Linked DNA regions of Homo sapiens. The protein of the gene in region 4 interacts with the protein of the main gene of each other region in a pairwise test. Each region holds a gene or a part of one and is shown on either strand. Other genes may lie near its edges.

What was found.
Region 1: the proteins of RMDN3 (region 4) and EMP3 interact in binary tests that used the Homo sapiens proteins (3 or more experiments, as listed by UniProt).
Region 2: the proteins of RMDN3 (region 4) and TMEM100 interact in binary tests that used the Homo sapiens proteins (3 or more experiments, as listed by UniProt).
Region 3: the proteins of RMDN3 (region 4) and GIMAP1 interact in binary tests that used the Homo sapiens proteins (3 or more experiments, as listed by UniProt).

Annotation. Positions count from the first base shown.
Region 1 is NC_000019.10:48,320,860-48,329,442, forward strand, and holds the start of EMP3 (epithelial membrane protein 3), read left to right. Parts: upstream 1-4,692; 5' UTR 4,693-4,751; intron 4,752-5,131; exon of another isoform or gene 5,132-5,194; intron 5,195-5,970; 5' UTR 5,971-5,985; coding exon 5,986-6,063; intron 6,064-6,661; coding exon 6,662-6,764; intron 6,765-8,492; coding exon 8,493-8,583. UniProt on the Homo sapiens protein: Probably involved in cell proliferation and cell-cell interactions.
Region 2 is NC_000017.11:55,719,865-55,728,398, reverse strand, and holds the start of TMEM100 (transmembrane protein 100), read left to right. Parts: upstream 1-5,534; 5' UTR 5,535-5,780; exon of another isoform or gene 5,781-5,786; intron 5,787-7,263; 5' UTR 7,264-7,328; coding exon 7,329-7,733; 3' UTR 7,734-8,534. UniProt on the Homo sapiens protein: Plays a role during embryonic arterial endothelium differentiation and vascular morphogenesis through the ACVRL1 receptor-dependent signaling pathway upon stimulation by bone morphogenetic proteins, such as GDF2/BMP9 and BMP10.
Region 3 is NC_000007.14:150,711,286-150,720,551, reverse strand, and holds the start of GIMAP1 (GTPase IMAP family member 1), read right to left. Parts: upstream 3,940-9,266; 5' UTR 3,862-3,939; intron 1,511-3,861; 5' UTR 1,505-1,510; coding exon 1,462-1,504; intron 505-1,461; coding exon 1-504. Other genes in the region: GIMAP1-GIMAP5 protein, read right to left, coding at 146-504, 1,462-1,504. UniProt on the Homo sapiens protein: May regulate lymphocyte survival. Required for normal levels of mature T-lymphocytes and mature B-cells.
Region 4 is NC_000015.10:40,735,375-40,739,779, forward strand, and holds the end of RMDN3 (regulator of microtubule dynamics protein 3), read right to left. Parts: intron 3,203-4,405; coding exon 3,127-3,202; intron 2,669-3,126; coding exon 2,591-2,668; intron 2,353-2,590; coding exon 2,254-2,352; intron 1,968-2,253; coding exon 1,914-1,967; intron 1,831-1,913; coding exon 1,750-1,830; intron 1,221-1,749; coding exon 1,167-1,220; 3' UTR 513-1,166; downstream 1-512.

The DNA.
Region 1 (8,583 bases), on a different chromosome or scaffold from region 4:
GACTGAGGCCGCGGGAGAAACTATGGGAGGAGGGGCGGAGAAGGATGCGAGGCGTAGACCTGCAGGGTTCCCACGGACTGAGAACTGATGGGCAAGGCCAGGCGCGGTGGCTCACGCCTGCAATCCCAGCATTTTGGGAGGCCGAGGCGGGCGCATCACTTGAGGTCACGAGTTCGAGACCAACCTGGCCAACATGGTGAAACCCCGTCTCTACTAAAAGTACAAAAAATTAGCCGGACATGGCGGCTCGTGCCTGTAATCCCAGCTACTCAGGAGGCTGGGGCAGGAGAATCGCTTGAACCCGGGAGGCGGAGGTTGCAGTGAGCCGAGATCCCGCCACTGCACTCCAGCCTGGGCGACAGAGCGAGACTCCGTCTCAAAAAACAAACAAACAAACAAACAAAACTGATGGGCGGCGAGGTCCTGAAAGGGGCGGAGCCGGGAGGGCCTGTGGAGCGGTGCTGCGGAGCCCTGAGAGGTGCACGGCTGTGAGGCCTGAGAGGGGCGTGCCGTAGGGAGCTGTGATGGGCGGGGCTGAGACCTGTGAGGAGAGTGAGTGGGAAGAACTTCGAGGGGCGGGGCTTCGGGGCCGGCGAGGGGAGGGGCACGGACACCAGTACAGGACGGGGCTTCGCAGACAGCGAGCGGAGGGGCTTCCCCGTAAGGGGCGGGCTTCGAGGGTCGCGTTTGGAAGGCCTTACGAGGGGCCCGGTGGAAGGGCGGTGAAGGGCGGGCTAATCGGGAGGCGCTCAGGCCTTGAAGGCCTGCGGGAGGTCGAAATGGTCCTGGGGAGGTCGAGGCTGAGGTCTCACTAGTACCGCGGGCCTGGAAGCGGCGGGAGTTGAAAGAGCCTGCGGTGACCTGTATGGAAGCCCTCGAAGCCAGGCCGAGGTCCTACAAGACGGAGCCCGAGAGGTGCCGGTCTTAAGCTGACTGTGACCACGTTAAATTAAGGATTCATAGGAAGGAAGGCGGTGTCGAAGCCGGGAGTTGCGCGGAGAAGGAGCGCTCAACACAGCCTCAGCGGTTCACTACGCAAGCGCGACCAACGGCTTCCCGGGAAGCAGCCAAAAACGCTTGGCCGCCTACCACGTCCGCGCGCTGGAGGGCGGAAGTGGGTGAGACCTCGGGCACTCCATACCGCCCCCCGGTTTCTGGCCACGCCCCCTCTGGTTACACCCACTCGCTCTGTAAGGCACGCCCCCTCCGCGGCGGCGGCTGCTGCCCACGTGGGCCTCCCCGGGCGGGCGGGCAGTGGGCGCCTCTCCCTGCAGGCTGGGTGTGCCCGAAGCCTGCGGTTTCCTGTGGGAGGAAGCGGCCTGCGTACGCTCAGCTCAGCTCATAATCTCGGAGGCCCAGGATGGGGAGATCCCGCCGCCACCCTCAGATCCTTTGATTCTTCCCCTTCTACATAGCCATAGTGCGGGGACCCCCCTAATATCCCCAGGGTACCCAAGCCTGGCGCCGATCCCACTCAGGGAACTTGATTCTGAGTCCTAGACTCGTGTTTTTCACCTCCCCGGCTCAAGTTTCCATCTTCCTAGCCCCTGGCTCCCCCTAGTCCTCTCAAGAAAGTGGAGCCCTCTTTTCCTGCTCCCCAAGAGGAACGTATGTCTCCCCAGCCCCTAATTTTTCCTTCAGTGACCCAGACTTTGCAACTTCCTTAGGGATCTGAGTGCGGACCCCAGTTTCTGTCTCTCAGGCACTTAAGTTTGAGACTACTTATTCTCCCCCAGGGACCCTCATTTTGGATTCCCAACTTTAGCCTTGAGACCCAATGGACCCAAGAATTTGCCCCTTCCCCAACTCCTAGAGATCCTGAATCAGGGTCCCCCAGTACTGACTCCACTCAGAGCCCCAATGCCTGATATGACTAGCACTACCCTAAGAACTGCCCTATAATGTATTTACTATTATCTCTATTTTTCAGATGAAGAGACTGAGGCATAGAGAAGTTATTAGTAACTTGCCAAAAATTACACAGCCATTGAGTAAAACAGCTTGGATTTTGAGTCCAACCAGTGTGGCTCTAGAGTCTGTGCTATACTGGTATTCCAGCTTCCAGGTCTTGGGGTACCCAGCCAAGCACTGAACTGTCCATCCCTCACCCCCTCAGGGAGCCCGAATCACCAACAGCTATCCCAAACCCAGCTCTGGCCCATCAGATACCCAGACATCCCATCATCCAGTTCCCTTCCCTGGATCCAGGATTTGAATTCCCCTGCTCTCAATTTATCAGAGTTCTGGGCACCTGGTCCCCTCCCAAGAGACTCGTGTACATAGTAGTCATCACCCCGACCCTAATTTAATATCCCCAAAATTAATAATAATAGTTAACAGTAAACCTTTGGGGCCAGGCACAGTGTCTTACGCCTGTAATCCCATCATTTTGGGAGGCCAAGGCAGGCAGATCACTGGAGGTCAGGAGTTCGAGGCCAGCCTGGCCAACATGGAGAAACCCCCGTCTCTACTAAAAATACAAAAATTGGCTGGGCGTGGTGGCGGGCACCTGTAATCCCAGCTACTCAGGAGGCTGAGGCAGGAGAATCGCTTGAACCGGGAGGTGGAGGTTGCAGTGAGCTGAGATCATGCCACTGCACTCCAGCCTGGATGACAGAGCAAGACTCCATCTCAAAAAAAAAATAAAAATCTTTGGTACTACACTCTGTTAAAACCTAATGGCTTTCCACTGCACTTAGAATGAAATCCAAGCCCCTCCCCTAGTCTTCAAGGGCACCCTTTGATTTCCCTTCTCACCACTCCCTCTGTCTCCCTGTGCTCCAGCCACACTGGCCCTTCTGTCTGCTCCCTAAACAACCTGAGCTTGTTCTCAAAAGCTTTAAGAGCTTTTGCACTTCCTCTCCCCCCGACGCCCCCCCACCACTCCCCAACCCCAGCGTTCAAATGACTCCTGTCTTCAGCTCAAATGTTACCTCCTCCAAGAGGCCTTCCCTGATTTTCCTGTTTCAAGTAGTCTTCCCTGCACTCTGTCATTATCTCCATCACTCTGTTTGATTTATTATTGTATTTATTTTTCTTTTCTTCTTTTATTTTTTTTTTTCTTTAAGATGGAGTCTTGCTCTGTCACCCAGGATGGAGTGCAGTAGCGTGATTTCAGCTTACTGCAACCTCCGCCTCCCGGGTTCAAGCAATTCTCCTGTCTCAGCCTCCTGAGTAGCTGGGTTACAGGCGCCCACTACCATGCCTGGCTAATTTTTGTATTTTTAGTAGAGACAGGGTTTCACCATGTTGGCCAGGCTGGTCTTGAACTCTCGACCTCAGGTGATCCTCCAGCCTTGGCCTCCCAAAGTGCTGAGATTACAGGCATGAGCCACCACGTCCAGCCTATTGTATTTATTTTTCAAGTCACTTATCCTTATCTGAGATTTATCTTCATCATTGATGTTTTCTCTTGTCTGTCTTCCTCTACTAGAATACAAGCTCCATAATACCAGCAGGGCTCATGTCTGTTTTCATTATTAACTCCCAGATCAGAGTACATGTTCAATAAATGTTTGATGAAGGAAGGAACAGGTTAGGTGTGTGAGTGTGCCAGTATTACCTTATTCATTCAGCATAAGTATCAGAATTATTATTATCAGTATTAGTATTTTGTCAGCATTATTATACTCTCAACATAGACTAAGATACTGGAGCCCAGGTGGGTGAAATAATTGGCTCAAGGTCACTGAACCAGGAAATGATGGCGCTGGGATTCTTAGCTTCCGCTTCCTCCCCGCTTCCAGAGTTTCACAAGGTTTTTTTTTTTGTTTGTTTGTTTTTTGTTTTGTTTTGTTTTTTTTTTGCGACAGAATCTCACTTTGTCCCCCAGGTTGGAAGGCAGTGGTGCAAACTCAACTCACTGCAGCCTCCACCTCTCGCGTTCAAGCGATTCTCATGGCTCAGCCTCCCAAGTAGCTGGGATTACAGTCGCCCGCCACCACGCCCGGCTAATTTTTGTATTTTTGATAGAGACGGGTTTCCACCATGTTGGCCAGGCTGGTCTCGAACTCCTGACCTCAGATGATCTGCCCGTCTCGGCCTCCCAAAGTGCTGGGATTACAGGCGTGAGCCACAACGCCCTGCCGAGTTTCACAAATTTCATCTCCCATCCTCTGACCCCCCACCACGGGGCCAACTTCACCAGCCCAATCTCAAGTCCATGCCACAGAAATCTGGCCTCTTTTCCCAGACTCCTATCCAGCTCCAAGCTCCATCAGGGAAAGCAGACATCCGGCCCCAGGGCAAGACCTCAAAACTCAAGGGTCCTGAGAATCGGGCCCTCCCACCCCTGACGCTTGCCCCCCCCAAGAACCCCATTCCAAGAGTTTCTCATCTCAACCCTGGGAGGGAGCCCCAGATGATGTCTGTCTGGAGGGATTGGGTGGGGGCCCAAAGAAAGAGGAACCGGAGTGCCTGGGCCCTCCCACTGGCAGCCGACCTCAGCTGGGTGCGGTGAGGGTGGGTTTATAAAAGGGTCAGTATATATTGAGAGGAGGAGAGAAAGAGAAACGGGAGCAAGAGAGAAGGAGGCCCAGACAGTGAGGGCAGGAGGGAGAGAAGAGACGCAGAAGGAGAGCGAGCGAGAGAGAAAGGGTTCTGGATTGGAGGGGAGAGCAAGGGAGGGAGGAAGGCGGTGAGAGAGGCGGGGGCCTCGGGAGGGTGAAAGGAGGGAGGAGAAGGGCGGGGCACGGAGGCCCGAGCGAGGGACAAGACTCCGACTCCAGCTCTGACTTTTTTCGCGGCTCTCGGTAAGTTTCCAGTCCGTTATTCAGGGCTGGGACTTCTTAATTTACTTGGGAATGTAGCAGTTTGGGAAGGACACCCCCAGGCTGGGAGAGACGTCCCTGACTCTTGGAAATCCTTTTAATTTAATAAGTGATCTCTTAGCACTTGAGGTGGGGATATGGGAAGGGGTGGGGCCCGGCAAAGTTTTGGGGTCCCAGCAGAGCCCTCCACTGGAAAACTTCCTGCAGTTTTTCCCTCAGCGGTGTCCACTGTCCTCTGGGGTCCCTGAGATCAGGGCATTGCATGAGAACACCCCAAATCTGGGAGACCTCTAGGTCCCCTGTTCCTGGGCACCAAAGAGTCCTGGGAGGCTAACTCCTTCTTGGGCCTCTCTTCCCCCCAGCGCGAATCCTATCCATTTCCTCCAGAAGATGTCCAACAGTCACCAGTCTGGCAGCAGGGTGGGGTGAGGACCTCGTGGACATAGCCAGGGGCTGGGGTTTCCCTGGTGCTTAGAGATGGGGGGGGGTGGGGATGAGTCACCAGATGACTCACCAGGTCCCCCTCCTCCCCTCAACCCAGGAGAGGAGTGGTGTGAGTCAAGAATGCCTGTTGCTGGGGGCAGCTCCTCAATCCTGATGTCGGGGTGCAGGGTGGGGTCTCAACTTGAATTTTCACTATCTGGCCTGTATGTAACCCAGAGTCAGGGTTCTGGGGAGAGAGGAGCCACATTGCTAGTCCTCCTCATTCAAGGAACCCAAGAGTCCATCTTTGGCCCTCTCCACCCCTCCAGCCAATGGGGATCTCAGGAATCCAGGCCCCAGCGGTCTCCTCCCTGAGAGACCCAGGAGTCTGCACCCATGCCCTTCCTCCATCAGGAGACATCTCACCTGCCTTTATGCCAAATTTTTTTTTTTTTTTGAGACGGAGTCTTTCTCTGTCACCCAGGCTGGAGTGCAATGGCATGATCTTGGCTCATTGCAACCTTTGCCTCCTGGATTCCAGTGATTCTCCTGCCTCAGCCTCCCGAGTAGCTGGGATTACAGGTGTGCACCACCACACCCAGCTAATTTTGTATTTTTAGTAGAGATGGGGTTTCACCATGTTGGCCAGGCTGGTCTCGATCTCCTGACCTCAGGTGATCCTCCCGCCTCGGCCTCCCAAAGTGCTGGGGTTATAGGCGTGAGTGTGCCTGGCCTGTGCCAACCTCTTGAGACTCCGTCCCCTGCTCCCCCTCCCCAGGCTTCCACTGCAGCCATGTCACTCCTCTTGCTGGTGGTCTCAGCCCTTCACATCCTCATTCTTATACTGCTTTTCGTGGCCACTTTGGACAAGGTAAGCCTACTTGGAGCTCAGGGCCCTTCTGTTCCCCTTTGGAATCTTGCCACGCCCCTCCTCTAAAGGCATTCTGGCCCCACCCCCTTTACCTAGTATTTCTTTTTTATTTTATTTCATTTATTTTGAGACAAGGGTCTCACTCTGTCCCCCAGGCTGGAGTGCAGTGGTGCGATCTCGGCTCACTGCAACCTCGGCCTCCCGGGTTCAAGCGATTCTCCTGTCTCAGCCCCCCAAGTAGCTGGGATTAGAGGCACCTGCCACCAAGCCCGGCTAATTTTTTTATTTTGGTAGAGACGGGGTTTCACCATGTTGCCCAGGCTGGTCTCGAACCCCTGGCCTCAAGTGATCCACCTGCCTCGGCCTCCCACAGTGCTGGGATTACAGGCATGAACCACCAGGTTAACCCTTTTAGCTCTACCTCCGATGCCTCCTCCCTGTCCTGACCCTACCCCCTCTCATATTAAATCCTAACTCTCCCCAGTTCTGCCCCATCCCAGATACCCTGCCCTTTTCCCAGCCCTTCCCACAGTCTGCCTGACCCTATCCCCTCTCCTTTCCTAACCCTGCCCCTTGTTTCGTTCTCTGTCCATCCCAGTCCTGGTGGACTCTCCCTGGGAAAGAGTCCCTGAATCTCTGGTACGACTGCACGTGGAACAACGACACCAAAACATGGGCCTGCAGTAATGTCAGCGAGAATGGTGAGGGGTGAGGGCGGCGGGACTGGTCTTCAAAGGGGAAGGTAAACCCTTCGTGTCCTCATGGGACTGAGAATTGGGAACCCTCCCCCAACAAAGTTGGAGTGGGCGGGGTCCAGGCCTGAGTGGCTGAGTGCCTAGGGCTAATGCATGTCCCGCCTGTCTGGATGTACCTACCTCTTGTTTTTTTTGTTTTTGTTTTTTGAGACCGAGTTTTCCTCTGGTTGCCCAGGCTGGAGTGCAGTGGCGCAATCTTGGCTCACTGCAACCTCTCCCTCCGGGGTCCGAGCAATTCTCCTGCCTCAGCCTCCCGAGTAGCTGGGACTGCAGGTGTGTGCCACCACGCCTGGCTAATTTTGCATTTTTAGTAGAGACAGGTTTCACCATGTTGGCCAGGCTGGTCTTGAACTTCTGACTTCAGCTAATCCACCTGCTTCAGCCTCCCAAAGTGCTGAGATTACAGGCGTGAGCCACCACATCCAGCCAGTACCTCCTGTTCTGAAGAGGCCATATAGATAAAAGCATGCTATAGGTTTAAAGAATAGAGAGGGGAGGCCAAGGCGGGTAGATCACGAGGCCAGGAGTTCGAGACCAGCCTGGCCAAGATGATGAAACCCCGTCTCTACTAAAAATACAAAAAAATTAGCCGGGCATGGTGGCGTGCGCCTGTAGTCCCAGCTACTTGGGAGGCTGAGGCAGAAGAATCGCTTGAACCCAGGAGGTGGAGGTTGCAGTGAGCTGAGATTGCACTACTGCACTCCAGCCTGGGCAACAGAGCAAGATTCTGTCTCAAAAAAAAAAAAAAAAAAAAAGAATAGAGAAAAATCTCCCAAGATTCTGAGAAGACAAGAGTATTTTTCCAAAGCTCTAAGGAGATGGGGCTGGTGCTCTGAATGGATGCCTGGGACCATTTCATCCAAATTCCAAGGGGATGGGGCTGAAACCACTTAAGGTTCTAAAGGGGTGGGGCCAGGTGCATTGGAGTTCTAAAGGAATAGAGCTGCATCTATCTAAAGTTCTGTGTGAAAGATTTAATGCAAAACTAAGATTAAAGGAAGTGGTCTGCTCTCACCACTTCTATTCAACCTTTTACTGGAGTAGCCAATGCAAGAAGGCAAGAAAAAGAAATAAAGGGCATGGGAAATAAATTAGGAAAAAGTGTCTCTATTCCCAGTAAACATGTTGTTTATGTAGAAAATCCATTAAAATTCTGCAAAGCAGACAGACACAGTGGCTCACACCTGTAATCCCAGCACCTTGGGAGGCTGAGGAGGAAGGATCACTTAAGCCCAGGAGTTCAAGACCAGCCTGGACAACATAGGGAAACCCTGTCTCTACAAAAATTTAAAAATTACCCAGGTTGTGGTGGCTTGTGCCTGTGGTCCCAGCTACTCAGGAGGCAGGGGTGAGAGAATTTCTTGAGCCCTGAAGGACGAGGCTGCAGTGAGCCATGATTATACCACTGCACTCCAGCTTGGGCAACAGAGCAAGACCTGGTTTCAGAAAAAAAAGAAAAAGGAAATTGGCAAAGCAACTACTAGAACTGAGAAGGGAATATAGCAAGGTAACAGGGCTCAAGGTCAAAATAAGTGATACATCTAAGTATCTAGGCTTGTATGGGCCTAAACGGGAGCAGGGATGGGGCAGAGAAGGGTCACATGGTGAGCAAGCAGGTGAAGCTGGAACTCTGGACCCACGGTGATGTCCCCCTCTGTGTCCTCCTTACTGCAGGCTGGCTGAAGGCGGTGCAGGTCCTCATGGTGCTCTCCCTCATTCTCTGCTGTCTCTCCTTCATCCTGTTCATGTTCCAGCTCTACACCAT
Region 2 (8,534 bases), on a different chromosome or scaffold from region 4:
CTTAATCATTCTAGAAGCAGTAGGCACCCCTTTTCAGAGCACTTTTCCCAAACTAAATCTAGTTAGAGGATATCACCCTGAACCCAAGAAAATGAGACTTAAGCTAAACTTAGGAAAATGTACATAATATAATTTTAAAAATGAATTCCTCACAACACAACATAGAAGAAGAAAGAGGTACCTAGATTTGAAACCTGGCTCTGCCACTTTAAATAAAATACAAATACCTGAGAGATGACTGTGTTATGGGTAGTACATGTTAGATGCTTGTGTTAATGTGTCCCTTTCCTCTTCAAACTGAGCACATTGTGTGCGTCAGTTCAGAAGGAAGGAGCCCAGGTTCTGGAGTTAAACCCAGAAACAGGGCCAGTCTCTGAACCTCCATTTCTTTTTTTCCCTCCCCATTTCTTTCTCAGCAAAATTAAAAAGTGACTTGTGAAAAATATCCTCCATGCTCCTCTTACCAAGCCTGCAACTTAAAACCTATGGTTTAAACTGTGCTTTCAATTATCTGGAGGAGGCCAGCACTGATGAGCCCATCCTGAGCCAGTCATTTTAAGGCCAGTGCTACCTAACTGAGACAAGGCTAATCTGGTCGGTAAGTATATTCTGCTCTGTGACTATGGAATGGGGAAAAGCTAACTGACCCTTACAGAGATACCATTGATTATCCGTTTTTAGGACACTTTACATGTTGCGAGGTGATTTCCAATTTCCAGTATCAGATTGGTGTCAAAGCCTAGAAATTGTACAGCGATTAGGAGTCGACTGGGTGCCACACAATGTTTATGTACATAATTTTATGACCAAGACAAGTGATATTTGGCACCTGAGACTAGGGGGAGATTTCTCCTGTAAACGAGCACCAAAGGGCTCCATGCTATCAGGTATAGGGAGGAGTGGCAAAGGGGTGAGGTCATTGTGATCCCTTCCCTTCTCCTCCCTGAAAAAAAAACAAGTATGGTGTGTTTCCTGCAAGCCCCAGAATATGTGAGCCTTAGCTCACTCACTAAGGGAGGCTGACCCTAGGAGTGTGCATTTGTCTTAGGAAAGAAAGTGTCAGCCCATTTTGAGGTAACTCTCGAACTTCGGGCTTCCTCATCTTTGGCCTCCAAAGAATAACGTACATAAACATAAAATGCGATGCAAAATGTATGGGGTTGTATCAGGATGGCAGGAGTTTCGGTGTATATTCTGATTTTGAGACAAGAAAATCAATTCTTCTCATCTGAGGCCAGAATGGTAATTAGTTCTTGTTGAAGTGAGAGATTATTTACTCAGCTCTATTTTTTTATGTTTATGTGACCTTTCATAGTTACTCAGAACAAAATGGGGTAAGAGAATGGGGATTGTAATGTGAATCTAAAAGATGTATGTTTCCCTTTCTATATTCAAATGGATCTTATGAGATTCCCATACCTAGAAATTGACCACCAATTAGTAAAATACAGATTTATATCTAAGGCACATTCATTGTTCCTCTTGGTACTATCAGATCTCTCTATTTAATGTCCTAGACCTCAAAGAAAAGTGTTTTGGAGGAGAAAAAAAGAAAAGGAGGAATAATAACATGACCTGCTATCCAAAATGAACACAGAAGCACAGATCACTTTCCAAAATGTCCATGATTTCAGAACATAAATGCAGGCACACCCTTAAAAGAAGCATTAGAGAGGAGAAAACCTGGCCAGCTTCCCAAATCTCCCTGCATCCAATTGGACTGGGTGATGACTGAGATCAAAGGCATGTGGTGATTGGACAGAAGGCCAAGAGGAACTGGCATCCTCAAGGCTGCTGGAAATTAGCCAGCTCAAACACACCAAGCAAAAGCAAATTGGAAATAAAGACAGGCGAGTAATCAAATGCACATGGGGGCATGCTTCACAAAATGCGAACTTCATGTGTTCCCAGAGGAGAAATTGCCAGGTCTTCAACAGCACAAACTCAATAGGAAAATCAAAACATCCCCTTTTGCAACCTTAGAGCCTGAATCTTTGGCTTCCACTTTAGGGAAATGGGCAAAATGACCTCTTTGTCATAGTACACACCATGCTCCCTGCCCTCCTCCACTCCCAGACCCCTCTCCCCTAAGTAACTTTGTCTTTCATTTTGTTTCTAAAGAAAAAAAAATGAGATTTTTGCAATTTGGGGCATTCTCTCTGGAACAGCAAATGTTCCCAGCTCTGCCGTTTACAATGCCTTTGGTGGAAGGTCACCTCGGAGGTGTGATTTTTCAGTATAACATAATTTCTATGGTGCCTTGACATCCTCCAATGAAGAGCACCAATAGGACCACTCCTCTGACATTAGGGAGAGGGTCCACTCAGGCACCAAATGCCATTCTCACCACTAATCCTAATCTTCCTTGTACTCCTTTTATTACCTGCATGTTATTGGGAAAGAGGATGGTTTATGGTCCCATTCCCCTACATACACACTTTCCAACCCCATACTCCCTTAGAAATGTAGAGCAAAGATTACGAATTCTTTTCTGCAGGTTCTGATTCACAGAGGGAGAGCATCAGAATGGGGGCTTTGGATAGGAAAAACCTTGCAAATTAGTGCCTGAATAAAGATATAAAAAGAGAAAAGTGAAGGAAGATATTCTTCTCAAACTTGATGCCCTTTCTCTCTGTCTCTGTCTGTATACACACACACACACACACACACACACACACACACACACACACACACACATATATATGGGTTACATTTTCATGGAGGACAACAGAGTAAAATCCAGCAGCATTTAAGGGATTTCCTCTTGCCAAATTGTCTCCGGTCCCTTAATTGTGTTTAAGCCTTGCTGAGTACTTTGTTTACGGTCCCTAATGTGGTGATTTGCATCCCCCTGTCTGGGTTGCTCTTGGCAGGGCAGGCAGCTGTCTCAGTCTAACTCTGGCTGGGAAAGGTAAGGATCTTTGCTTTGCTTTTTGAAAGATCTGGGAAGGAAATGTTGAATGTCTATGGGGGTTAGGGGCATAGATATAATTCATGCATTGGAGGCTTTGAGAAAAGTTCTCCAAACTTAAAGGAGTCTCCTAAAGCCATGTGCTTTAGAAAGAACTAGAGAGATTTCCTCTTCTTTGTGAAAATAGAGGGCTCGCAGAAATAAGGCTGGTTGCATTGTGGATGAAATTTTGCATTTGGGGGCAGGTGTCCCCAAAGGATGCCCAGGGGTGTTTAATACTTTGTAGACACAGAGTGGAAGGAGGAATAAACATTCAGAAACAACAGGCATAGATCACTAGGAATTCTCTTTGAATTTCAATTTGAAGAGGTAAAGTCAGTTAAAGCTGCATGTGTCAGTGGTTAGGATGACAGGCTTCTATTCTTCTGATACAATGTCTGCTTTATACCAAAACTTTCTACCTCTTTGAATTTAAAATACAAATCATTGGTTGTCTACTCAGAGTCTAGAGATGTGTACCTGTGTATCAAGGCAGGTGCACACACCCTGTGGAGGAGCATTGGTGTGAATGAGGCACCTGAGCCTGACAAGGTTGAAGAAAGCTTTGGTATTGGAAGTGATGACAGATTTGTGCTCCTAGGACACAGACACACTCACTGCGCCTCATTATAGACTCAGTCAAGGGCTTACTATGAAAAAAGCTGCCATTGTCCTCTCTCTAGACGTTCAATGTTTGCACCTTTAGCTTTGGTAACAGGAAAGCATGCTTTTCAACAGAATAAGGTGATATTCAGAGCTTCAGTGCAGTTATTGGGCTATCTTGCAGGCAAAGTGGTACTAGAAAATAGAGGGGAATTGCCCTCAAGGGCCAGAGTTTGCAGGTGAGAAGACAGCTCTGTTAAGGAGCTTCTCAAGAACCTCCATTGTACGTAGCCAGCGGCCCCCATCTTACCATCTTCCGGGGGCAACTTTGGCAAGTTCTGAAATGCCCTGGTTCTAAGTATTCCTGACCCTCAACACCAAGTGACGGTACTCCTCAGATATGAAAGCTGTCTCTTTAGGTCTGACATTTTTAAAGTGTGAGGATCATGGTGACCAAGGCCTCCAGGTACTTGCCATGACTCCCCCAACCTCAGGGACTTTTCAACTTTATTTTTTATAAGGACATAACCCTCTCTCTGGCTTTCATTCCAGAATAAACAACTTCTGGTCCCTCTCTTTTTGTGACAAGTCATCAGGGTATTGCTACAAGGCAAGGCTGGAGAGAGTGTGCTGTGGTAGAGGAGAGGCGAGATGTTTGAGAACATCCAAGCCCTTTGCCAGCTATTAGAGAAATCTAACAATTTGAGAGAAAGATGGAAAACAAATCTCTTCCAAGAGTTAATTTGGATTTGTGGTTCACAGTATTAATTAGAAGAGGTTATTAACACTTGTGCAGATGAAAAAATGGAGGATGTAAACTTTTAACTACAGAGTGTAGGATGAGCTCCCAGTATTATCTTTTCTCCTCAAAAAGACAATCTTGGGCTTTATATGTTTCAAGGTTTTAAAAATTTCACAGTTTGTCTGTAAGAAAGCATAAACCTATAAAGTCACTTACAGGTTTATGGGGTGGGAAATAGATGTTTAACTTTATTGTTTAAGTATGATGTGTCAAGTTGTATATGTTTGAATGTTTAAAATACCTTGATCCTTAAAGTGGGCCAAGGAACAGAGGTCTCAACATAGGTAGGGAGCTTGTTACAGACTTACTGAATCAGAATCTAAATTTAACAATCTCCCCAAATGATATATATATCCATTAAAGATTAGGGTTCAAACCAAGGGTGTCTCTGTTACTGGGTGATCTTTGTTAAATTACTTAACCTCTCTGAGCCTGTTTCCTCATTTATGAACTAGTGAGAATTAACATTAATATGTGACATTTCTTAATATTGTGCCATGTCCACAGTAGGTGCTCTATAAATGGTAGCAATTATCATGATGATGATAATCTTGGTGCTGCTAAAGTTACCTCCTTGCAAAAGCAGTAAACAATCATGTTTAAATCAATATAACTGGCTTTCCCCCTTAACCACAAACATTTGTGCCTCCCACCCTCATTCCTAAATGAATTAACACTCAACAAGTGGGGTTTTAAGCTTCAGATGACTATCACGCACATATAAAGAATAATGGAAAACCTAGGAACATGGATTTTTGCTGGCTTAGAGACTGAATTCAGCTGCCTGATGACTTCACAGCTGTTTCTGCCACCCTAGAGTATCTGTCCCCTCGGCTCTGTCCCCTCAGCCGGGTCTGCAACGCTGACTCTGGGATTTTCTTATAAAAATGCCTGATGGACGGGAGGAAGATCTGGAGGTCGGCGGGGGAAAAAATGAGTCATTCAAATTCACAAAGCAGTCCGCTTAGTAAATGCTGCAAGAGAAAAAGTAAAAGCTGGCTCCTGTCTCTGGGGAATCTGTAGAAATGATTCGGACTCATCATGTCACTGAGCAAAGCTGGGGGAAGCCAAAACTCAGAATCTGCTGGCAAGGAAAAGAACGAAGGAAAAAAAAAAATGTTAGGGAGGGGCAAACCCGAGGGGGAGGGAATAAAAAGAGAGAGGGAGGGAAAGACAAGCGTCATTTAGGAACAGAGGTAGCCTGAAAGAAGCAGGAACTCCAGGATCCCAAACCAGAGCAGACCCTATAGTAAAGTATTTTTACATCTTTTCCTTTCCCCAGAAGAGATCCCTAACCTATTGTTTTATTGACAGCCTTGCTGTTAGAGGCTCTTTCCCAGAAGTTGGACGAAGAGGCTCAGGCGTTGCTGTTTCTTGTCTTCCAAGTCAAGTGGTTACTCTGGTAATGGATTGCCTCTCTCCGAGGTGAGTGTAAGTAATTTGGGGACAGATCTTGATTTTCAGGTTAGCTCAATCTCAGCTTTGGGGTGAAGTTATTTTTTTCAGACATAATCTCAAATATCTTTTAACTGGCCTCACCAGAAGTTAGGGTGTCATTGGACAACAGTGATTAATTAGTTTGGTGATTAAAAATGACATGTGAGTAGGCAGCTCTAAGATTTAGTTTCATTGCTCAGGGAGTGATATTTTGACTTTCCAGAGCAGGGAAGAACCAGTGAGGTTTGATTTGGAGTTGAATTTGTTTTCAGTGGATGCTTAATATATTTAAAGTATGAATCTCATTGAAATGGTCTCAAGTATCTTTCTTTAAACTTGTTCGGTAACTACAACTGCTCAACTGTGTAGCAGCTAGACAGCTTTTTGAGAATGGAAGACAGTGACTCAACCATGTCTGAGCAGCAGACAAGTTTTCACTGATTTCTCATAGACAGCATTTCAACCAGATACTTTTGATCAAAAGTCTCAAGCTTTGTCCTGAAATGTTCAGGTACGAAATACTTAGAAAGGGTCATTGCAGCAAGTTTTATACACAAAGGCATGGAGGAAAATGAAGGTTGTGAAAGTTTCCTGAAAACCTAGCATGCTTATTTGTTTCTGCATGTTGTAGTATACATAATATCGAAATTTTGTGTTGAGCTTAATAGAAAATTTGTGAATTGACAGCTAATTACTCAAATAATTGATTTTATTTTGCCAAGAGAAAGCACAAAATTATATCCTATGAAGGGGTTGAATTTTTTTTTCTTATTTTTTCTCTTTTATAGCAGATTGGAAGATATTGTTACACTTCAGACCACAAATCCCCACCTCATTTTCAATGAATTTTTTGCTGAACTGTCCACCTAAAGTGGGTAATAAAAAGATCCCAGGGAGCAGGTTGCACTGTGTTTAATAGTAACACAATAAAGATTTGTTGGCTGTCATTCAATGGAGAAGAACATCATTTGTTGCTGGCCACTTGCCTTGACATTGATTTTGTGGGCAGCCAATGGGTGATAGTTTGCAAAGAATGCATGTTATGCCCAGCAAGATTGGCGGAGTCTGAGTTGCTGTAAGTTCTGGGATTAATGGTACGAAATATTGTTTGTAATGTATTCTCCTCTTGAATGAGACCATCTTTGGATTAGGATTCAGGCATTTCTGTGTATTCAGAGGAAGGAGAAGCAATAGACAAAGCAGAAAAGCTTGTAAAACTTTTGTAGACCGCCAGGGTATATTAAACACTGTAAGTGCTTCCTGCTTTTTCTGTCTTCCCTTCATATGCATCTGCTTCATCTTATTTTTTGCCTAAATGCAAAGAGAATGCAACCAATTCAAAAAAAGAGTAAAGTTGCTTTTCACATGGATCTGTGCCTCCTAGAAAGGAGGTGCCTCCCCAGCTTTTCATTTCTGCTTACAGGGTGTACATTCTGATACATGTAGCTGACATCTCCTGTTATCTTCACAGCTTTCACCCTGGTGAGACTGTCCAGATCTAGTCTGTAAACCCAGCTTAGAAGCACTGTTGTAAAAATGACTGAAGAGCCCATCAAGGAGATCCTGGGAGCCCCAAAGGCTCACATGGCAGCGACGATGGAGAAGAGCCCCAAGAGTGAAGTTGTGATCACCACAGTCCCTCTGGTCAGTGAGATTCAGTTGATGGCTGCTACAGGGGGTACCGAGCTCTCCTGCTACCGCTGCATCATCCCCTTTGCTGTGGTTGTCTTCATCGCCGGCATCGTGGTCACCGCGGTGGCTTACAGCTTCAATTCCCATGGGTCTATTATCTCCATCTTTGGCCTGGTTGTTCTGTCATCTGGACTTTTTTTACTAGCCTCCAGTGCCTTGTGCTGGAAAGTGAGACAAAGGAGCAAGAAAGCCAAGAGACGGGAGAGTCAAACAGCTCTCGTGGCAAATCAGAGAAGCTTGTTTGCTTGAGACTGAATACGACCAAATGGGCCATTGGGCCTGGAAAACGTGCTCTGACTTTGTCACCCAATTCACCCAGAACCATGGTGGGAGAGAACAGACTTGGCGTTGGAGCAGACTGGAAGAATGGGGGTGGGAGGGTGGAGGGGCTTCTCCTTTGTGAGGAATGACTCATGTCTTCTTTAACGACAAACTTAACCCTAAGGGCTACTTCTGAGACTGAAAAATCAGCTTTCTATTTACATGAAACACTTTGGGGGTCATGGGAGTGCACAGCATTAGACAGTATTTGGTTCACCCTGTAAAGTAGCCAAGAAAAGATGAGAAAAATCAAGATAGGCCTGGCACACTAGACATTTGCCTCCAAAAGAAATAACCTACAGTCTTAAGATGTATCATAAAAATGTTCTGCCAAGGATCTAAATTACCTTGGGTTTCGCATATGTCTATGAAATTCTGTGATAATTTTTTTCAATACATTGATTCACTGGCGTCTGTTTTCATTTTATACTTTTAATAACTCATCACTGGTGGTACTTTATCTTGAAAAGTAATATTTTTTATATTTTAACATTGGACAGTGTTAGCCAGTTGTAATGATGTATCAGAAGTAAAGAAAAACCCATTAAAGTTATAGCTAATAGATGCTGTTGGGGGTTAAATTAATAGTAAAATAATCCAATATAGCACTTTTGATGATTTTTATATAAAAGTCAACTGTACATTTCATTCAGAATAATAAATACTTATTGCTGCTAAAACTTCTTAAATGGTTGTTTCTGCTATAGTTATTTCTATTGCAGTTCCAAA
Region 3 (9,266 bases), on a different chromosome or scaffold from region 4:
CCCCGCACTCGGCCACCAGCTCGCGCAAGGCCCGGTTCTCTGTGTTGCTCACGTAATCGTGCAGGGAGCCCCCGGCCAGGTCCTCCTTCCTGGTGAAGACGATGACCATCCATTTTAGGACGTCCTCCCCGAACATGTCCCTCACCTGCCTCACCGCCTGCTGGTCCTGGGCGGTGAACCGACCCAACTGGGTCACCAGGAGCAGCGCGTGGGGTCCGGGGGCCGAGAGCAGGTAGCAGTGACCTCTCTCCTCACAGCCAGGATCTGTCTTGGACACTTGGGAGCTGAAAATGTCCGGAGTGTCCACGACTTCCACGTGGCACTTGTCCCACCTGCGGCTGCCCGTGGTGCAGGCCCTGGTCACAGACGTGGCCCCCAGCCTGGAGAAGAACCGTCTCTGGCCCAGGATGCTGTTCCCAGTGGCGCTCTTCCCGGCCCCTGTTCTCCCAACAAGGATGAGCCTCCGCGTGGACTCCTGCCGGGACTGAGCGTTCTCTTCTAAACCTGTGAGACCAAGTGTTATAATCTTACTTAAGTTTAACCAACTTCCCCTTGGGAACTGGAATCTTCTTGCCTTTAGCATAAGTGGTTAAGAATAGAGATTTGAACGCCTGGGCGTTCATTTCCACCTTTTCCTTTTGTATTTGGGTTGTCTGCCTGCACCAGTAGATGCTCCAACTACAGTTGATTATCATAGAAATGCTTCTTTATCAGTCCAGCCCAATAGTTCATCTGACATTTCTGGTCATCCACACACATGCAGACATATTTATTTCATATTTGAAAATTTCGATGGACTCTGAAATATTCTCCCAGAGACCATCCCCAGAGACAGGCAGTGGGGGCAATACTGCCTGGTAGTGAAGAGCTGTGTGGAGTCCCAGATACCCTGGTTTGAATCACAGCCCCACCACGTGCTGGTTGTGTAACCTTGGGGAAGCTGCATAATCTAAGTATTAAGCCTCTTCGGCAAAAGTGGGAGCGATAATAGGGGCCTGTTTCTCAGAGGCCTGTTGAGGGGGTGAAATAAGCCCTCTTTCCTTCTTCTCTCTTTCTCTCCCTCTTTCTCTCCTTCCTCTCTTATCTCTCTCTTAAACTGGCTGCCTAAAAAGAATATATGTTTTAACCCTCTATCCTTGTTCTCTAAACATTCTACCTCACAAATCATGTTCACTGTAGTGCATGATTTAATCCCCTCTGCACTTCTTCTGCGGTGATCGGAGTAGGTTTATTATCCTTATTTTATACTGTGGAACCAAGGGAGCAGGCTAGTCACAGAACTTAACTTCTCACAGCAGAGATCCAGCTAAAATGCAGATCTCAGGGCTGGTGCTGTTTCATCCCAGAGTTGAGACACCTCTGGAACTTATCTCTGTTCAGTCTTGAGGAAGCCCCATTCTCCTTATTACCCTAAGTTCAAGCCTAGGGGGGCAAGTATGAGGTGTAGAGATATGGTCTTACCATAGACATTTTCTTCATCTGTCGCCATCTTCCTTCCTCCCATGCTTACCTGGAAGAGTCCCAAACACAATTTGTTAATTCATTTATTTATTCCTCAAATAGGCATAACCACAAATAGGCATAACCACCTACAGGGTGTCAGGCAAAGTCCAAAGAGCTGGTGACAGCACAGTGAAAAGACATGGTTTTTGCTTGCAAGGATCTAAAAATCTAGGTGTATGTCTTGGCAGAAGGGCACGTGGCTAGAGAGAAGACAGGTAAATTTCGTCAAATATAATACATTGTGCTAATCCTTCTTTAAGTAAGGATTATATCGGAACTTGAGAGAATGGCCTTGGAAGGGCCAACACCCTGCCCTTGAGTTGGTAGGATGCTGTGAGAACATTGGGTGAGGCTAGATTTGTCTTTTCAGGAACTCCAAAAGCAAAAAGCAGAGGGTCGGTTATAACATTTACTCAATGCCAATGGGCTTTAGGTATTACTTTTCCCTGGGTGATTCTATATCACTGACATAAGCTAGAGATATCAGGGGATTCAGCAGCTGGGGGAAGATTAGGTAAACCCTCAGAACCAGAAAATGTGCCCAGTGACTTAGGCACCCACCTTCAAGTGGCTGACCTGGGAAGAAAGAAGAAAATTGGGATTTTTCTTTTGGAAATTGAACAGATCTCCCAAGTAGATCTGGAGGGCCCCTAACTCTGTTTTCTTAAAATCAAATAATTTGGTTTGTTTAGAGATGTCTAAATACGATATCTGTGCTGGAGAGACTTGAACACTTCCCTTCAACTCCTGAAGTTGCTTCCCCTCCAAATGTGATTATGCTGAAATCTAACATTGTGTAATACAGCTAAACCCTCTGTGATCCAGTTTGCCTAATCACACAAGCTCCTGAACACAAATTCACTTCTCCCTGCATCTATGTCTCCAGCCTCATTCCCAGACAATACCCCACTCGGTCAGCTACTTCACAATCAGCAGATTTCAGGGCCTTTCCAACCCACTCGGCTTCCCCTCCTAGGACTATTGATCCTCCCCGACCATCTGTCTGTGCCTCACCATCCATGTCAAACTTGTTGTGTCTTGCACCCTGGTCACTTGGATACCTGTGTTCTCTCCCATTGGCACCACACATGAAGGAGGGGCAGAGAGAGAGGCTGGCTGAGTAACTTGTCTTTGATTGAAGGACTTGGAGAACAGATTTGCCTCATATTAAATCTAGAGCTGTTTCTGTTTCTGCAGGAACTCTACTGGCCCTCCCCAAAGCCTTCAATAAAATTCACTCCATGGGCCTTATGTGATTAATTATTTTGCATGTAGGAATGAACAGATGATCATAAATGACATCAAAGCAGAAATGAAGAAACAGTTGCAAGATTCAGAGAAAAGAATTTAGATGAAGCAAAATGTCCTTGTCAACCAAGAAAATGAGAATTTCTTTTTCCAGTGCTGCAGAATTCTGGATAGGCCTTTGGAATTTTCCATAGTTTAGAAGAGGGGTTGAAATGATTTTAAATAGTTTTTTTTTTTAAAGGAAAGTAAGACCCAGCTGAACTCTGAGGTGACAAATGGCCCTTAATCATTGAGGAATGTACACTTATAGAATCCTGTATTCCTAACACTTTAAGAGACCGCAAAGTTTATTGAGTTCTTCACCGCTCAAATGTGCTGCTTCTCAGAATTACTTGAATGTTCTTTAAAAATGTACATCTCTTGGATCCATCCTGAGATTCTGATTCATGAATTAAATGTTTCTGATGTCCACAGCTCAGAACTTGGACATCAGTCATTTTTGCAACCCCCTTTATTGTACAGATGGGAATTTGAGGTGTCCCCGTGGCTGGAGCAGGAGAAGCTTGAATTAAGGGAGCAGATGTTTAAGGGGCCATGCAGGGAAAGGGGTTGAAGACCAAGATATTAATCTCAGATGTCTCCTCAGGGGCCCCTTCTGTGGACAGTGAGGAGGAGAGTTCAAATGTACCCAGTCTTGTCACGTCGTAACTCACTCCGAGGTTAGATGGCTTATGGGGCCATAGAAATATCTTTTGCCTTTGCTCAATAGGGAGCTTGAGGAATGTTTAATGCCTTTCAAACTGTATTTTATTCCTGGAGGTGGTTCCAGCACACTCTTTTCTTACTTTGTTAAGGGAATGTGGGAGGAGACAGATTTCACTCCCCACCAAGAACGTGTGTGCTCCAGAGCTGGAGAAGATGATCCTAAAATTTCCTCTGAACTTTGCCTACTTAAAAACCTGGAAGTATGTCCTTGATTGTTCCAGATCTTGCTCGCCTGCATGATGCCTTGTAGAATGCAAGTGTTCAGGCAGTAAACACTCTAGGAATCATGTTCTTTCTGGTTCTCAGAGCACCCCCAGCCCCCGCCACTCCCAGGCTCAGGCTCACCTTTCCTGGTGACAGGCTCTGAAGTTGGCCACAAGAAGCCCCAACCTGCTGCTTTCCCTTCGGCTGTGAGTGCAGAAGGCTGTTTCCTCTCGGCACACGGAGGAAATCACTCAGACTTCAGAAATCAGGAAGCTCAGGGTGGGCCCCATGGTTATGGTTTAAAGAGACAGAAACATTTCCCATTGAGCTGTGGGTTGGCAATACTTCTCCTACCGACTCTACTTTCTGCTGTGACTGAGGTTATGTGTCTCCAGCAGGGCCTCATGATGTCAAATATCTTGCCATGCTCTAAGAAGGGAGGGATGTTGTAGTCTCTGAGGCCTGACTGTACTTCTAAAATTGATTACTGAGCTAATCTTCAGTTGCCTTTGCCCTATAGGGACATTTCCCCATATAAAATAGGCCCAGAGAGTCTCCTGCCCCGGAACAAATAACGTAATAGCTGTTCTCATCATCTGTCCATTAATTAGACATTCATGTGGCCAGTGCCAGCCCCAGATCCAGTCTGCCAGAAAAACCTGAAGGCAAAGTCTTATCATTCTCTGAGAGAGGAGGGCTTTCCCAGCTATTGAAGGACTTGAGGGTGAACTGGTATGTTGAGGATGAACACCTTCGCACTATCTTCAATTTAGCCTTATTAGGAGGCTTTAGTCTAGTCGTCTATGTTGGTATCACCAGTTCTAGTTATTCTATCTTCTCTCAAGAGCATCATGAGGTCAGCAAAAAAGCGAATCACTGGGTGGTAAGAAGGCTACAGAGGAGCAGGCTGCATATCTGGTTAGGTCATTAACCAGCTATAGGACCTCACCTAACTCATTTAAACTTTCTGGAGTTGGCTTTCTGGAGTATATGGGGAAGACAATAACCCGAGTCTTACCCTACTGGATAGGATCTGCTTTTTAACCTCTTTCATGCCAGACCACTTTTTTTCTGGTAGGGAAGAGACCCAGCTTTTACTGTTTCCCATCTTTTTGGGGGCACAGAGTCTCCTGGATATCTGACATGTCCACTGTTTCCATTCATCATTGCTGAAACAGGGAGCCTGTCATTCTCCCAGTAGACCGGCAGGGCTGGGGCTATTGTGAGGCAGGTGGGGCATCTAGAGCACACAGCTTAAGGAGGCACTCACTCTCAGGTCACCCAAGTGCAGATCTTGTAGGTGGGTGACCCTGGGAGTGAGTGTTTTCTTAAGAGTGAGGTGCCTAGGGCTTCTCACTAGCCTCATCCTAGCCCAAGCCACATAGATCAGCTTTGAATAAGTCTTTGATACTTGACGTGTACCTTTCATAAAGACGCTTTCAGAGCCTCTTCAACAGCTCCGGGCCATTTATTGTTTCCATGCATGTGTATGATGTCTTACTTCAGCCACTCATAACTCTCTGTCAGAGGGTTTATCTGACTACAAAAGTATATGTAGGTAATGCATGCAGCAGCCTGAAGTTGTCAGAGCTGATATCCTAGGAGCAGATTTCAATCAATGTCAGTTAGGACTTATGGATAAACACCACAACTTATCAAGTTGTCCACCACGTGAGACAACTCTGTGATGTACTGCATACAAATTGCTGAGTCCCCAGCAGGACTGAGACCCAGTTGTCTGCAGTGGGAACATCCTCATCACCGTATACAGTGGTAATGTGCTCATTAATGCAACTTGCATTGGCTACTATCCCTTCCCGTCCCACATTTCCACTTTCCTACTGGTGCTTTCTGGGATCTTCTTCCTATTGAAAAGTAACCGTTTCTGTCTTTATTTTCCTCTACATTTCTATTAGCTCTTGATTATGTCTCACTGTCTCTGGGCTTTGTTGCCTATTATTATTCATTGATACTTACTATCAGTTGTGGAAACCCAGGTGAAGCTCAGACCCTGACTACACTTGAGTCTCAGAATTATATCTAGAACTCCGGCTTCCTTTTGTACCCTGTATTAATGCTTCCTTCCTCTCTTTCCAGTCTTTGCATGTTCATTGTTTTCTTCCGTATCCTTATAAATGCAGTGAAGAAAATGTATTAGTCCGTCCTCACGCTGCTTTAAAGAAATACCCGAGATTGGGTAATTTATAAAGAAAAGAGATTTAATTGGCTCACGGTTCCACAGCCTGTACAGGGAGCATGATGCTGGCATCTCCTTGGCTTCTGGGGAGGCCTCAGGAAACTTACAATCATGGCAGAAGCCAGAGGGGAAGCACACACATCTCATGGCTGGAGTAGGAGCAAGAGAGAATGGGAAGGAGCTGCATACTTAAAAATTTTTATTTAATGTACTTTACATTCTGGGATACATGTGCAGAACATGCAGGTTTGTTACATAGGTATACATTTGCCATGGTGGTCTGCTGCACCCATCAACCTGTCATCTAGGTTTTAAGGTATTTGTCCCAATGCTCTCCCTCCACTTGCCTCCCCAACCCCCGACAGGCCCCCATGTGTGATGTTCCCCTCCCTGTGTCCATGTGTTCTCATTGTTCAACTCCCACTTATGAGTGAGAACATGCAGTGTTCGGTTTTCTGTTCCTGTGTTAGTTTCCTGAGAATGATGGTTTCCAGCTTCATCCATGTCCCTACAAAGGACATGAACTCATACTTTTTATGGCTGCATAGTATTCCATGGTATATATGGGCCACACTTTCTTTATCCAGTCTATCACTGATGGGCATTTGGGTTGGTTCCAAGTCTTTGCTATTGTGAACAGTGCTGTAATAAACATATATATGCATGTGTCTTTATAGCAGAATAATTTATAATCCTTTGGGTATATACCCAGTAATGGGATTGCTGGGTCAAATGGTATTTCTGGTTTTAGATCCTTGAGGAATTGCCACACTGTTTTCCACAATGGTTGAACTACTTTACACTCCCACCAACAGTGTAAAAGCATTCCTATTTCTCCACATCCTCTCCAGCATCTGTTTCCTGACTTTTTAATGATCGCCACTCTAACTGGTGTGAGACGGTATCTCATTGTGGTTTTGATTTGCATTTCTCTAATGACCAGTGATGATGAGGTTTTTTTTATATGTTTGTCACATAAATGTCTTCTTTTGAGAAGTGTCTGTTCATATCCTTCACCCAATTTTTGATAGGGTTGTTTGTTTTTTTTCTTGTAAATTTGTTTAAGTTCTTTGTAGATTCTGGATATTAGACTTTGTCACATGGATAGATTGCAAAAATTTTCTCCCATTCTGTAGGTTGTCTGTTCACTCTGATAATAGTTTCTTTTGCTGTGCAGAAGCTCTTTAGTTTAATTAGATCCCATTTGTCAGTTTTGGCTTTTCTTGCAATTGCTTTTGGTGTTTTAGTCATGAAGTCTTTACCATGCCTATGTCTTGAAGGGTATTGCCTAGGTTTTCTTCTACGGTTTTTATGGCTTTAGGTTTGACATTTAAGTCTTTAATACATCTTGAGTTATTTTTTGTATAAGGCGTAAGGTGTGAGGAAGGGGTCCAGTTTCAGTTTTCTGCATATGGCTAGCCAGTTTTCCCAGCGCCACTTGTTAAATAGGGAATCCTTTCCCCATTGCTTGTTTTGGTCAGATTTGTTGGAGATCAGATGGTTGTATATGTGTAGTGTTATTTCTGAGGCCTCTGTTTTGTTCCATTGGTCTATATATCTGTTTTGGTACCAGTACCATGCTGTTTTGGTTACTGTAGCCTTGTAGTATAGTTTGAAGTCAGGTAGTGTGATGCCACCAGCTTTGATCTTGATCTTTTTGCTTAGGATTGTCTTGGCTATACAGTCTCTTCTTTGGTTCTATATGAAATTTAAAGTAGTTTTTTCTTGTTCTGTGAAGAAAGTCAATGGTAGCTTGATGGGAATAGCATTGAATCTATGAATTACTTTGGGCAGTATGGCCATTTTCACAATGTTGATTCTTCCTATCCATGAGCATGGAATGTTTTTCCATTTGTTTATGTCCTCTCTTATTTCCTTGAGCAGTGGTTTATAGTTCTCCTTGAAGAGGTTGTTCACATCCCTTGTAAGCTGTATTCCTAGGTATTTAATATACTTTGTAGCAATTGTGAATGGGAATTCACTCATGATTTGGCTCTCTGTTTGTCTGTTATTGGTGTATAGGAATGCTTGTGATTTTTGCACATTGATTTTGTATCCTGAGACTTTGCTGAAGTTACTCATGAGCTTAAGGAGTTTTAGGGCTGAGACAATGGGGTTTTCTAAATATACAATCATGTCACCTGCAAACAGAGACAATTTGACTTCCTCACTTCCTATTTGTATATCCTTTGTTTCTTTCTCTTGCCTGATTGCCTTGGCCAGAACTTCCAATACTATGTTGAATAGGAGTGGTGAGAGAGGGCATCTTTGTCTTGTGCCAGTTTTCAAAGGGAGTGCTTCCAGCTTTTGCACAGTCAGTATGATATTGGCTATAGGTTTGTCATAAATAGCTCATTATTATTATTATTTTGTTTATTGTTATTATACTTTAAGTTTTAGGGTACATGTGCACAATGTGCAGGTTAGTTACATATGTATACATGTGCCATGCTGGTGCGCTGCACCCACTAACTCGTCATCTAGCATTAGGTATATCTCCCAACGCTATCTCTCCCCACTCCCCCCACCCCACAACAGTCCCCAGAGTGTGATGTTCCCCTTACTGTGTCCATGTGTTCTCATTGTTCAATTCCCACCTATGAGTGAGAATATGCGGTGTTTGGTTTTTTGTTCTTGCGATAGTTTACTGAGAATGATGATTTCCAATTTCATCCATGTCCCTACAAAGGACATGAACTCATCATTTTTTATGGCTGCATAGTATTCCATGGTGTATATGTGCCACATTTTCTTAATCCAGTCTATTGTTGTTGGACATTTGGGTTGGTTCCAAGTCTTTGCTATTGTGAATAATGCCGCAATAAACATACGTGTACATGTGTCTTTATAGCAGCATGATTTATAGTCCTTTGGGTATATACCCAGTAATGGGATGGCTGGGTCAAATGGTATTTCTAGTTCTAGATCCCTGAGGAATCACCACACTGACTTCCACAATGGTTGAACTAGTTTACAGTCCCACCAACAGTGTAAAAGTGTTCCTATTTCTCCACATCCTCTCCAGCACCTGTTGTTTCCTGACTTTTTAATGATCGCCATTGTAACTGGTGTGAGATGGTATCTCATTGTGGTTTTGATTTGCATTTCTCTGATGGCCAGTGATGATGAGCATTTTTTCATGTGTTTTTTGGCTGCATAAATGCCTTCTTTTGAGAAGTGTCTGTTCATATCCTTCGCCCACTTTTTGACGGGGTTGTTTGTTTTTTTCTTGTAAATTTGTTTGAGTTCATTGTGGATTCTGGATATTAGCCCTTTGTCAGATGAGTAGGTTGCAAAAATTTTCTCCCATTCTGTAGGTTGCCTGTTCACTCTGATGGTAGTTTCTTTT
Region 4 (4,405 bases):
AGGCTAGAGCGCAAGGGTGTGATCTCAGCTCACTGCAACCCCTGCCTCCCAGGCTCAAGTGATTCTCTTGCTGTAGCCTCTCTAGTAGCTGAGATTACAGGCGTGCGCCACCATACCGAGCTAATTTTTTCTGTCTGTATTTTTAGTAGAGATGGGGGTTTCACCATGTTGGCCAGGCTGGTCTCAAACCCTTGGCCTCAAGTGATCCACCCGCCTTGGCCTCCCAGAGTGCTAGGATTACAAGCAACAAGCATGAGCTACCACGCTCGGCCTATGCATCTCAGTCTTAAATTTTCTTCTAGGTGGATTTAGGGGTTTGTGCTCGTGGCCCTAAAAATGAACATGAGAAAGGCAGGGAGTACCTGCTTAGTTGCAATAGGCCTTGTTTAGGCTAAAAATAAGCTCGATACCTGTATTTTATATACTGTAAAGAGCATTAACCATAACCTGCCTGCAACAGCCTCTGTAGGTAGAAACAATTATGGAGGTGTCAAGTAAGAATAAAGAGCTGATAACATCAAATTTGGTTTATTTCAAGTTTGTAACAAAATATATTCTAGGCAACTTTTCAGACATTGTTTTATAGCATCATAAACCCCATACCACTGCTGTCATTCCAAAAGCTGCCAGGACACTGGAAGTTATCAAGTGGTCCAGCCCAGGAATACAGGTAGAATTCACATGATAGGTGATAAGAAAGCAATGTCTGTGGGCCACTCTGATCCCTCTTTTTACCTTGGTAGGTAAGGTATGATCTTAAGACTATATGTACTGAGTCCTATTAGTCAGTGAAAAAGATTAAAGTGACAAGTTATGTGCTTTGTTCCTATAGCTTTGAAGTTCATCCACCTCACCAGCAATTGGAAGGTCTCAGGTCTTGCAGGCTCTACCCATGTGTAATCCTGGGGCAGGTGTGAATCTTGATTTTTTTAAGAGATTACTCAAGGGAGAGAACAACAGAAACGGAAGCCATGAGTACTGCCCCAATTCTAGATTAGGTTAGAGGTTAGAATAAATTAACTAATGGGGAGTGGTAGTGGGTAGCAGTCAGACCCAGGAGACAGATTTGTGTGGTTTCCTGATCTCAGCAAGGTCTAAGGAAAAAAGCCTCCCCGCCCCCCCACCTTAAATAGTGGCATCAAGTCATGAAGGCCAGTGAAACGTGGTTAGTCTCGTAAAATGACTTCCAGTTCTTCCAGGTCCTTCTGGATAGCCAAATCCTAGGGAGACAAAGAACAAATCTAGGGCTCAAAATTTAAACCAGCATTTTCCCAAACCAGTGGAACCTAAGAAGAGGGGCCCTTTGCTTCCTTCCTGAGCTCTGCTACAGTCTTTTTCCTACTTCCCCAGGATAGCCTGGAGCCTATTAAATCTGTCTCTTCCCCTAGAGGTAGACTCTTTTTTACTAGGGAAATAAGACCTCTAGGAAAGATTATTTTCTAAAAATGTCACATGATGATTCAGTGATGACAGGCAGTTTTGTTTGGTTTTTTTTTGAGATGGAGTTTTGCTCTTGTTGCCGAGGCTGGAGTGCAATGGCACGATCTGAGCTCACTGCAACCTCCACCTCCCGGATTCAAGCGATTCTCCAGCCTCAGCTTCCCGAGTAGCTGGAATTATAGGCGTGCGCCACTAGGCCCAACTAATTTTGTAATTTTAGTAGAGATGGGGTTTCTCCATGTTGGTCAGGCTGTCTCGAACTCCCGACTTCAGGTGATCTGCCCAACAGGCAGTATTAAAAAGCCTTACCTCCTTCGTGACATCTGGCAGCTCCAGGGCCAACTTCATCCACCATCTAGCTTCAGAGTTTTTCCCTAGTTCTCTGTAGCACTGAAAAGAGACAACAGTGAAACCTGATACTGTGTACTTTCAGGAGTTCCCAGATCTATGTTGAAGTAGACAAATGAGTTTACCTTGGAAATATATACCCTTCCTGCTTTGGAAAATCCTGGCTGTAGTTCTTCAGCCTGGGAAAAGGGACAAAGATATTTCAGTAAGAGGTTCCTATATTCTAATCAGGCTGAAGTTTATTAAACTAGATTTCTAGTCCCCAACCATGTGGCTGATTCAGTGGGTCTGAAGAAACCTATATTTTTGATAAGCTGTGCAAGTGATTCTGGTTTTCCCATAGAACAGGCAAACACAAAATTGCCCCCGACTAGGAAAACCCCTCCCATTAAGGGTCTCAATAATGTCCTTAGGAAAAAACAAGGTTACCCTGGTGTTTTTGCCTGCCACCTGCCCCTCTCATACCTTTAGGAAGCTCTGGAGGGCATCTTCCACAGTGGCACTGAGAGGGCTTTCAAGCAAGGCTGTAGCAGTTTTTTTTTCTAGCCAGCTCAGGTGAGAGACCTGCCACAAAAAGATCAAGGTGTGTATAAGAGGTTTTAAAAGGTTTTTTTTCTTTAAATCTTTGGGGATATATTGAAAATAGGGTCAAACGGGGCTGGGTCGAACCACCAATAATACGAGCATTCAGAAGAAAGGGCACCTGAGCCAGAGAAGGCTGAGGATCTTGTTCTTCCTGGCAAGGAAATCGGTGTCAGAAGGCATTTAGGACCATTATGTCAAGCACTGAAACGCAGCTTACCTGATAGCACCACCTGCCAAGAAGAAAGTGAGCCATGGGGTTTTCTGGCTGGAGAGCAATGGCTTTGTCCACATGCTCCTAAGGGGAAAATGTAAATATAAACTAACATCAGACACCAGAGTTGCTAAAAGAGAGGCAAGGGCCGGATGCAGTGGCTCATGCCTGTAATCCCTGCACTTTGGGAAGCTGAGGCAGGTGGATCACCTGAGGTCAGGAGTTCGAAACCAGTCCTGGCCAACATGGTGAAACCCCATCTGTGCTAAAGATACAAAAATTAGCCGGGCATGGTGGTACATGCCTGTAATCCCAGCTACTTGGGAGGCTGAGGCAGGAGAATCGCTTGAACCCAGGAGGTTGCAGTGAGCCAAGATCACACCACTGCACTCCAGCTTGGGCGATAGAGTGAGACTCTGTCTCAAAAAAAAAGAAGAAAGGCAAGTCACTGAGGCTGTAGAAAAGTTTTTGGCAGGGAGCTGGAAAGGAGTGGGGAATCTGGGATAGGCCAGCACAAGGAAGGAGGAAAAGCCTGTCCTCACCTTGAAGCTAAAGCCACTCTGGATGCGCCTCTGGATGCTCTCATGCTCAGCCAGCTGACCACAAAGCACCGCATACCTAGGGGGGAAGCAGCAAGCTCAGGGACAAGGGCTGAGTACCATCACTGCAAGGAATGGATGCCCCAACCACAGCCTAGTTGCATTGTCCCCTATCCCTGTACCCTCAACTAGAGCTGAAAATACCTAATTTTCATCTGTACGTAATCCCCATTCTTTACGGACCTCTGGCCCCAATTAGTATTCTTTAGTAGATAATGGTAGGCTTACAAGTCTCCAAAGTATTCTAGGTATAAAAAAAGCTGGGTTCACCACAGTAAATCTCTCTTACACAGTAAATCTCTCCTACACTCATAAGGAGTACAGCCACAGGCATTAATAAAAACTTGAAAAGCATGAAAACAATCAGCATAAAAGTATGAGACCTGACTATACTACTTATCTTCTGGGCAGACAAAAAAGTGGGTCTCATTAGCCTTTAAGCATACAGGTGTATCACTGGGACTTGGGAAGCAATTTCTTAGGATAGTCACATTGGGAGGGGATATTCTAGGAATTTCTGATGTTACTTGGAAACCAACAGAACCAGAGGAAGAAAGACCTCCTATATATGCCTTCTCCCCCACATCCCCCCTCCCAAAGGGAACCAGCCAGCCAGCTTCCCATCATCTGTCTTCAGAAACAAAGTCTTACTTCCCCATCCCCCCAGCATTGTTCCTAGCAGCACAGTTGACATTCGATGAGTAACCAGCCCAAGTTGCTTTTTCATGTATATGCTAAGTATCCGGGGGGTATCAGATACTTCTAGAGGCTCATTTCCATGTTTAATCCAAACAGCTGTTCCTCAGGAATAGCTGTTCATCCTTGGAAGCCCAGGGAAGCAGTGACACCCAAGAAACAGTTACCTGGCCTCTGAGAAGAACCCTTGCAGAGACAAAAGTTTCAGCAACAGATGGAGAAACACAGCCTCTCACTTAGCTCACAGTCTGAGGGTGGAGACATGGAAAGCAAGGGTGGCGGTGGGAAAGGAAAGGAACATTTTCACTAAAACTCAGGTGCTGGAACCAGACCCCAGGATATGAGTTAGCCGTGGCCCAGGTAAGCTGACAGAACTTTGCCTCACATGAGACCACAAAAAGGGCTGATGTTTTTGCAGCCTAATAAATTGACCACTAAACTTCTGGGGGGTGAGCTCACATCTACTTTTCCTCACATGAACCAAGCAAAGAAGCCAAAGTACCAGCAGCCAGGGATCACACGCAGG